3 linked regions of the Homo sapiens genome follow. The protein of the gene in region 3 purifies or fractionates together with the protein of the main gene of each other region. This does not show direct contact. Each region holds a gene or a part of one and is shown on either strand. Other genes may lie near its edges. The genes, in order: ACSL1, NAV1 and PTH2R.

Region 1 (2,594 bases), on a different chromosome or scaffold from region 3:
TGGCTTGATGTACACATCATCACACCAAACAGAATTTAAGACAGGAAACTAGATTTAAACACAACAGGCTTGGAAGAAATTAGGGGGTTGATTCATTAATACCTGTGGAAAAGAAAATCTTTAAAATGGTAACAGAAGGAATAGGGTGGAGATAGAAGAAAAGAAACAAGAAAAAGTTGGCTGCTATAAAGAGACATCTGAAATAATTCTACAGTAAGAGAATGACTAAACAGTGCTAAAATACAATAGTGGGATTACATTCACCACGGAATCACCAGTTACAGCCAGCGTCGCCTGAAATACATTTTCCAGCAAGGAAGCTGCATTTTCAGGACCTTCTCTGTTATTCACACCATGACTTTCTTTTCCACAACCAGTTAGGACTTTTGCCACAGACAACCTGGTGGGAGGCTCGGGTCAGTGTCTGTCAGTGCCTGAGGCCAGCTGAGTTAGAGGAGGGTGACTAAGAAGAAAAGAAGACAACTGGGAAGGATTCCAGGCCCAGGGCCATTCTTGCTCTTCGCTTGTGCACATTACAGGCTGTTCCGAATATTAAACATGACATTAAAAAAGATGCCTCACTCACCTGAAATGCAGAAATATTTATTTTGGTTTCCTTCATTGTTTTTGGAAATTTTGTTTTGGTTTATAAAACATAGAAATAGCCAACACTTAAAGCAAACATTCAAAACCCCAAGGTGACAAATTATTGACTTTTTGTGCAATTAAGAATACATATATGAAGTTAGGCTACCAAGTAGTGTTATTACAATGACAATTCTTTAGTGCAAGCCCTGTTGTGCTTGTATATAATACATGTACTCTCACAGACCCCAAAACAGCTGCTTTAAATGTACAAATGACAGCTCAATTCAGTCAAATGTGGCAAAGACTCACAATAAAGTGAACTGCTGTTAATTTCCCAAATTAACTTTAAAAAATCCCTGGAGAAGTGAATCCCAGGAAATGAACTTTCCAGATTTCTACATCCTAGAATTTTGGCTTGTCAAACACATTTCATAGAAATCAGGTAGCATTATAAGAACATTTGCTTATTACTGTCCATTTCAATAAGTACTCAAGTATATACTCCCTTAATAGCTTTAAAGAAATGCTTGCCTGAGAGTTTATTTTTTGGGGAAAAAGGCAAGTTAATCCCAACATGATCTTTTGATATGAAAACCACATTAAAAATCTGTTGGCCTTTACACAGAGTGAGTGGTTCAGTGAAGATAAAGTAGACAGTTATTCAGGCGTCACAGCTGAGCATGGCTGATCCAGGTAACTCTTTCTTGAAATGCTTGTCTTCACTATAGAATCTAAGGCAGATTTTTAAATAACCCCTGAAAAAGGATGGAGTCGGGGAATCAGGCCTGGAGAACCGAGTCCAAGAGCATTCTGCCATGAAAGAGAATCCACGCGTTCTGATGAGCACCCATTTGCCAGAGGCTCCTTATCTGCATGGTTCTGAGTTGGATCTGCCCTCCCGCTTACTGGAAACCTTATGCTCCAACAGAAACCACAGGGGACTGGAGAAGAACATGAGTTTCGTAACCCTTACGAATCAGAAGGGTTCTGTGAATGCCTGTGAGAAGGGACAGTAGCAGGGATTTAAAAAGATCTCTGGTCCGCTTGTGAGATTCTCCAGCCAGGACAGTTGTTCTTATTTTTAAAGGGAACACTTCCCTCTAGTGCACTGTACTCTTTAGAGCAGCAGACAGCTGCAGAATTTGCAGCAAGTAGCAGACATCTCAGAGATAGCAAAGTCCTAACCCCTTGATTAGAGAAACAGGGAGACAGAAGATTTAAAACCCACTTTTTAAACTGAGGAAGTCTCAAATAACTTAGCACATTTATAGTATCCCCTTTACAATTTTTAAGGCTCATTTTGGAAAGTGTGTATTACCATAAACATGGTCTGCAACATGAGGTGACTGTAAGGCAGTGTTCTCTTTCCTCTAGCATTCCTATGAGAAGAACCCCGAATGGACAAGTCAAACACGAACGCTTCCTTCCCTACACTTGCTGTATTCAAAATTAACAACATGAAGGCCATCAGCAGGAGAAGAGATTGTGGAACTGTGCCATTTCCTCTGAGCTTTCTTCTTCACACTAAACCTTGATAGTGGAATAGAGGTCATCTATCTGCGACCTGAAATAGTTCCGCAGCTCTGGCCTTTTCGCCTTCATTGTTGGAGTCAGAAGGCCATTGTCGATAGAAAATAATTCAGGGTGCAATGTGATGCCTTTGACCTGCCAATAAACAAGGCAGTTAAAAGAGGAAAAAGGACACGGGCCACCAGTCTCAAAAGCACGTAAGCCTTGGAGGGGATCAACACTCTCCAGCCATCCAATCCATCCTCTCATTTCAGCCAAGCTGCACCTTCTCAACAAAGGACAGGCATCCTATTCTTAGGATAGGATTCGGGATCATATTCTGATATCCAGGAAAAGAGAATAAATGCTTTTGATTTAAAAACCTTTCCCCTGTCAAACTACTCCATTATTTATTCCTCATGTATGTCTTTAGGTCACCCCATATGTTTATATAATCTACCTGTAAAAAAATCTTAATGGAAAATTTGTTTTACAGG
Region 2 (3,657 bases), on a different chromosome or scaffold from region 3:
CTTCTTTGAAGGTGTCATGTCCAGAGTGAGGTGCACCACTCCATTTATGAGCTTACTGGCACAGGTTAGCCATAGGCAGATCACCTATTTATTATCAGATAGACAAAGCAGATTTTCTTTTCAATTTGTAGATTGCCCCTGAAAACCAGAGAACTGGGCTGATGCAGAAGGGATAAATGAAGGCATAAAGGAACGAGTCTGACTGTATCTTTGCTCTTTACTGTTTGTTGTTTAGTTATTTCATCTGGTTTTGGTGTTATCTAATTTTTTGGTAGACTTCAAGCATAGCATAGAATAGGTCCATAATAAAGGATTTCAAGAGTCAGTTACCAGTGCCTTTTTCCCAGTTCATTGGTGCAGATAATTGAGTTGACTGGGAAGGAGTATCTGGGTTCTGGGTAATGCCAAGATACCAACTGCTCTCTTCCTGCTTTTCCTTTAACAAAGGAGAGACAGCTGATGAGACACACGGTTAGGGGGCCCCAGCCAGGACCCATACGAAGCAGCTGCCTGCCTTTGTCTCTCATCTGGGACCATTCTGTATGGCCCCTCTGGCTCTCCTTCCCCAGAGCTTCAGGAAGAGGGCTGGATTGCACGGCATACCCTGCACTATTGCGTGCTGCCCGTTGGACCCTGGCTTTTTGTGCTCTTCATCGCCCTCTGGGTATAGTTCGCTTTACCAAGTAGATTTAGAAGGTGTCAGCCACACTTACCCCTACCTCACTGGGTGAGTCTGTGGAAGCTGCACCCTCAGGGCCCATGCGCAGTTCCCAGGGGGAGGGGAAAGGGCCACATGACAGTTAAGGTGCTTTCCTATGGTGCAAGTTCCCCCACACACAAGGTTTTATTTTGAAAACCGTCAGATAAGTAGAGAAGGTGAAAGACTGACTAGTACGATGAATGTCTACATTCACTGATTGTTGACATTTTGCTAGATTGCTCTGTATATAGATCAATCTATATAATATTTTTCTGAGCCACTTAAGAGTAATTTGTTGCCAGGCCCAGTGGCTCACACCTGTAATCCCAGCACTTTGGGAGGCCAAGGTGGGTGGGTCACGAGATCAGGAGATCTAGACCATCCTGGTCCAACATGGTAAAACCCCGTCTCTACTAAAAATACAAAAATTAGCTGGGCATGGTGGTGGGTGCCTGTAATCCCAGCTACTCAGGGGGCTGAGGCAGGAGAATCACTTGAACCCGGGAAGCAGAAGTTGCAGTGAGCTGAGATGGCACCACTGCACTCCAGTCTGGGAGACAGAATGAAACTCTGTCTCAAAAAAAAAAAAAAAAAAGTAATTTGTTGACATCATGATACTTAACCCTTCAACACTTAAGCATGTTATTTCCAAAGAACAAGGACATTTTTTTTTTTTTGAGATGGAGTTTCGCTCTTGTTGCCCAAGCTGGAGTGCAATGGCACGATCTCAGCTCACCGTAACCTCCGTCTCCCGGGTTCAAGCGATTCTCCAGCCTCAGCCTCCCGAGTAGCTGGGATTACAGGCACGCGCCACCATGCCCGGCTAATTTTTTTGTAATTTTAGTAGAGACGGGGTTTCTCCATGTTGGTCAGGCTGGTCTCAAACTCCCGACCTCAGGTGATACGCCCACCTCGGCCTCCCAAAGTGCTGGGATTGCAGGTGTGAGCCACCGCACCCGGCCAAACAAGGACATACTTCTATGAAGCTACAGCACCACAATCATACCCGTTAGTACTGGATTTAACAGAATTGTTTAATATATGGCCAGAATCAGATTTTCCAGTAGTTTCCCAAATGCCTTTTTGAGAGTGCTGTATACTTTTTCTCAACCCACAGCCTGCTCAGTTAAGGCCTAAATTGGAATTTTCTCTCTCAGCAAAAGGGAAATAAGGTCATGATCCCTAAAATTGGGATAGTGAACCACGGGAGGAGAAGCACTTTGACTTATATCATTTCATGTAATCGTTCCAACAACTTAGCGAGATAGGTACTAGTATTCTCTCCATTTTACTGGTTAGGAAATTGCAGTTCAGAGAGTTATCTAAGTTGCCCAAATAGTATGAGCCATTATTACCACTCCATGCTGCATGTCATATGTAATGATAGAAAAATAAGAGATTATATTTGTAAAAACCTGCGTCTTTTACATTCCACACATTCTGTATCCTCTTCACTAGGTCTTTTTTTAAATTACTATTATTTTTTGAGACGGAGTCTTGCTCTGTTGCCCAGGCTAGAGTGCAGTGGCATGATCTCGGCTCACTGCAACCTCCACCTCCCAGGTTCGAGCAATTCTCTGTCTCAGCCTTCCGGGTAGCTGGGATTACGGGCACCTGCCACCATGCCCGGCTAATTTTTGTATTTTCAGTAGAGACGGGGTTCCACCATCTTGGCCAGGCTGGTCTGAAACTCCTGACCTTGTGATCTACCCACCTCGCCCTCCCAAAGTGCTGAAATTACAGGCGTGAGCCACTGTGCCCAGCCCACTAGGTCTTATGAGGTGTTAGCACATGCTATGCTGTCCCCATTTGACAGAGGAGGAAAGTGAGGCTCTAAGGCTGGGATTTAATAATATTTATGTAGTCATGATCATGTAAATGACATTTACTGATAGTCTTTATGCAGAGCTCAATATACTTAGTTGTGGTTGCTGGGCAGGCTGTAAATAGCTATCAATAAAGGTGTAACTGCCAAGGCAGGAGGATTTCTTGAAGCCAGAATTCAAGACCAGCCTGGGAAACCTAGCAAGACTCACCCCCCAATCTGTACAAAACATTAAAAAATTAGCTGGGCATGATGGCACATGCCTATAGTATGGTCCTCCTGCCACAGCTACTTGGGAAGCTGATATAGGAGGATCGATCACTTGATCCCAGCCAGGAGTTTGAGGTTGCAGTGAGCTATGATTGCACGACTGCACTCCAGCCTGGGTGACAGAGCAAGATCCCATCTCTTAAAAAAATAAAAATAAATAAATAAGTGAATAAAGGTGTTATTGACTGAAGAAGAGAGGTAGAAGAGGGAAAAGGAGGGTCTCTAATACTCTCCTCTTCTACTGAGGGGATTCAAGAGTCTGTCAAAGTGTTAGAAAACAAGAAACCAAATTTTAAGATCAAAGGTACAAGATAACTCATAAAAGTAACTAAAATCAAATATTGGGAGGAAGAAAAGGAGAAAGAGAGTCGGGTTTAGTGTAAGTGCTCTAAACTTGTCTAACTCCTTTGGTAATGATAGATATTGTCTACAGGTGACAAAACAGGGAATAGTTATTAGTATGTTATCTAGAGTTTACGTGGATAACCACCAAAGGAGCTAATAACAGAAAACTATTTGGACAATAGAATGGAGTTGGGAAGAGGTGGGACAGGAAACTGTTGCTTGTTATTATAAGGTCTTCTGTACAATTTGATGGTGACCACCCAAAACAGTAGTGAGGAAGGCAGGCTTTAAATTCAGATATTCTAGTTTTCTCTTTCTTTCTTTCTTTCTTTCTTTCTTTCTTTCTTTCTTTCTTTCTTTCTTTCTTTCTTTCTTTCTTCTTTCTCTCTCTCTCTTTCTTTCTTCCTTCTTTTCTTTCCTTCCTTCCTTCCTTCTTTCTTTCTTTCCTTCTTTCTTTTTTTGACAAAGTCTCACTCTGTCACCCAGGCTGGAGTGCAGTGGAACAATCACAGCACAT
Region 3 (3,757 bases):
CTAGTGGATAGAGGAGACAGGGTGGCGCTAAATACTCTGCAATATACAGGACAACACACCCACCCCCAACAAAACAAAGAATTATTATATATGTCCCAAAATGTCAACAATGCCAAGGTTGGGAAATCCTGGTTTAAAGTTATAGAAGTATTCAATGTCCTGATTGTTTTATTGAAAGCAAAAGAAAATATTCTGCCCACAATCCCATGGTGATTTATTTATTATTTATTTCTCTCTCTCTCTCTCTCTCTCTCTTTCTCTCTCTCTCTCTCTTTCCTTTCTTCTCTTTCTTTTCTTTCTTTCCTTCCTTCAAGACAGGGTCTCACTTTGTTGCCAGGCTGGAGTGCAGTGGCATGATCATAGCTCAGAGCAGCCCCGAACTCCTGGGCTCAAGAGATCCTCCCGTCTCCCAAAGTTCTGGGATTACAGGCGTGAGCCACCACACCAAGCCTTTTTTTTTTCTTATTGTACTAAATAATACCTCCCCATTTCCTTACAAAAAGTAATCTAGAACACTAAATAAAATAAACGGTTAGAGTTCAGTTGCCTCTTGTATATAAGATGCCATTTTTAAGCATATTATCCAAATATCTTATGAGATAAAAATGTAGGAAGTATAGTAGAGATTACCAGAGTTCTATAACGATCATGGAAATTTATCACCAAATTTTTTTCCATGCATTCATATTCCTTCTGGTAACTTGATGAATTTTTTCAGGTTTAAGTGTATCTTACTTTCAGCTATCCATTGCTAATATTATTAGTCAATGTATGACACACAAATTGTTTAGTTTATTAACAAAATTTATTTATTAACAAAATAAATCTACATGAAACATCTTGGTCATGTTAAGTAAAGCCCACTTTTAGCGTGGCACCTAGCCTAGAAATCCCCTTTAAGTTTTAATGTCTCTGGTTATGACTTTAACAGATAGGTTTTTTAAACTGCACTTTTAGAATAATTGAAATTTAAACTAGTCATCTGAAAGCCGAGAACATAGTATTAAGTTTAGACAGTATCAACACATAAATCACTGCTTTGAATTCTCACGGTGAAATAATTTTTTATTGGGCCTTCATTTGACGGTCTAGGTGCACCCCCTACCGAACCGGAGAGAAATACCTTGATTCGGTTTAAATTCACAGGGCTCTTGAACTGCATAACATCCACCACTACACGCATCTCTCTAGCTCATCTGAAAAGCTGACTGTAAACCCTACATTTGATTTGACTCAAAAAAAAAAGTGCGTATGAATTGTGCCTTGCACATTAAAGAGGCTTCATTGTGAAAGATCGCCCAGAAAATCTCTAAATGATATTAGCAGTACAAAAGTGACAGCCACCGCTTAACATTAACAAATGAGCTGTATTTTGGTATTTTTATTCTGTCTCCTAACTTGAATGTATGTGATTCTGTATCACAGACAGCCAATTATTCTTTCAGATAGTGGTCACAATCGATCCTGTAAATTTAAATTCTCAAAAGCGATGGTAAATTACCAGCAGACAAAAGTCATTTCGATTAATTAAATGGGGACCACGGAGTTTAAGAGTAAGAAAAGTTCCTTCACCTTCCCAGCCTCACACTCTTGATCCACGACTCCGCTGTTCGGAAATATCCCCTTACTTTGCGGATGCCAGGATGCTGGTCTAAACAGTGCCGGCCCCAGGACATCACTCCACTAAAGCAGATCTTTGAAGCTCCCTCCACTAATTGCCTGCCAGCACCTGCCGGGTACGCCTCGGTGCGTGCCGGGGCGTTTGTGGACGTGTGAACATGAATGAGCTCTCGCGCGCACCTGGCCTCCGTGTCGCTAAAGCTGAGTCCCCGCCGGAGGCTCCGCGAAAACAGGTGTCGCGGAGCACTGGCTCTTACCTGGGCTCTGGCCAGGAGGCAGCTGCCGAGCATTAGCCAACCCCAGACGTGGAGCGACGCCCCCAGCCCGGCCATGCCCGGAACGGCTGTAGGAAGAAGCAGGGACCCTCCTCCAGAGCCCGGGAGAAGCTTCCAAGTTGCCAACTTGGCTGGCCCAGAGCAAACTTGTGGCCAGTAACGACGCGCAGCTGGGGTGGTCGGGCCCGGGCCACCGGCCGAGGGTGCTTGGGGTCTTGTCGCCGGAGCCACGCGCTTCTCAGAACCCGCGTGCTGCTGCGCCGCGGCGCGAGGTTGGTCTTGTCTTCCGGAGAGACTGGCCCGAGTCCTGGACTTGACTCGCAGCCCCGCGCCGCCTGCGGCGGGAAGGGGGCGGCTCCCGCCCCAGGCGGATCCGGGTGCGCCCCGCGCGGCTGCGCTCGCGCTCCTCCTCGAAGTCACTGGGTCCCGCAGCCCAGGGGGCGGAGGGCAAAGGATCTCATGTCGCTGCTGCCGCCACCCCCGATTCGCAATGTTTCTGCTTCCCTCCACTCTGTCCCGGGTTCCAGGGCCCTGTCTCTAGGGGCGCCCTGGGTCTTCCAGGAGTGATCCAGAAGTTTCTTCCTGTCCTGCGTGCGCTGACCATCGGCCCCGAGGACAGCGATAAGATGGCTAAAGGCTCCCGAGGCCAGGTAGGCCCTGCGTCTGGGCTGTTCGCTGGACAGTCCTAAAGCTCTCTAAAATGCTCTGATTCATTTTCTCCTAACCATTATAATAATACTCGGTGTGTGTTAAGTAGAAATAATGTATATATTTCTTGTGGGTCAAAAGTTCTTTGTGTGGTATTGTGCTTTGAATCCTGGCATTAAAAAAAGACAACTAATATTCTTTTTTTTTAGTTTATTTTTAAGTTTGACTATTTTAGACATTCATTGGCCAATTGTATTACAACCTTTTAAAATCTCTTGTTCTTGCCTCTTGAAGGAAGAAAGCCTTTGAATTCTGGCTCTGCCATGTGCTAGCTGCATAACCCTGAGCAAATTACATACTGGCCTCTCTTTGTCTTAATCTCCTCAATTGTAAGATGGGAGAAATGCGAGAACCTCCTTTAATCAGCTCTGGATGCTATAACAAAATACCATAAACTGGGTGGCTTATAAACATCAGAGATTTATTTCTCACAGTCTGGAGGCTGGGAAGTCCAAGATCAAAGTGCTGGCAGATTCAGTGTCTGATAAAAGCCCGCTTCCTCATTGACCACTGCTGTCTTCTCATTGCAACCTCACATGGCAGAAGGGATGAGGGATTTTTCTGAGGTCTCTTTTATAAGGGCACTGATCTCAGAGCCCTCATGACCAAATCACCTCTCAAAGTCCATGCCTAATAAGCCATCACCTTAAGGACTAGAACTTCAACATATGTATTTTGGGGGAACATAAACATTCAGCCCACTGCTGTCCCTCAAAATTTTGTTGGAAAAGTTAAGTGAGTAAACAAACATAAAGTCCAAGGAAATGCTCAATAAGTATTAGCTAGTATCGTTAGCATTGTTTGGTGATGATGAATATTATTATTATTATTGTGATCATAGTCTGTGAATGGGCAAAGGGCTGTGGTAAGTTTGAGTATTCCCTATTTATGTAGAAAAGCACTGTCTATGTTTACAATATAAAATATTTTTCTGACATAAATACCAAAATGTTTTTCAACTTTGTTTTTGGCCTAATTTATAATATCTTGATCAGTGCGGAGGGTTTTTTAAATTTATGTATCTAAATCTAGCAGTCTTTTCTTTTATAATTTCTTCCTTAGCTTTTATGCGAGAAAGGAATTGCATACTAAAAATTAGAAAATCTTTTCATCAGATCTTTTTTCTAGTTCTTTTCTACCGTTTCATAATTTTA

Evidence for each region.
Region 1: the proteins of PTH2R (region 3) and ACSL1 purify together in Homo sapiens (co-immunoprecipitation; one large-scale study listed by IntAct). This does not show direct contact.
Region 2: the proteins of PTH2R (region 3) and NAV1 purify together in Homo sapiens (affinity purification with mass spectrometry; one large-scale study listed by BioGRID and IntAct). This does not show direct contact.

Annotation. Positions count from the first base shown.
Region 1 is NC_000004.12:184,755,013-184,757,606, forward strand, and holds the end of ACSL1 (long-chain-fatty-acid--CoA ligase 1), read right to left. Parts: intron 2,254-2,594; coding exon 2,113-2,253; 3' UTR 583-2,112; downstream 1-582. UniProt on the Homo sapiens protein: Catalyzes the conversion of long-chain fatty acids to their active form acyl-CoAs for both synthesis of cellular lipids, and degradation via beta-oxidation. Preferentially uses palmitoleate, oleate and linoleate.
Region 2 is NC_000001.11:201,545,627-201,549,283, forward strand, and holds part of NAV1 (neuron navigator 1), read left to right. Parts: intron 1-3,657. UniProt on the Homo sapiens protein: May be involved in neuronal migration.
Region 3 is NC_000002.12:208,405,239-208,408,995, reverse strand, and holds the start of PTH2R (parathyroid hormone 2 receptor isoform 1 precursor), read right to left. Parts: upstream 2,205-3,757; 5' UTR 1,953-2,204; coding exon 1,878-1,952; intron 1-1,877. UniProt on the Homo sapiens protein: This is a specific receptor for parathyroid hormone. The activity of this receptor is mediated by G proteins which activate adenylyl cyclase. PTH2R may be responsible for PTH effects in a number of physiological systems.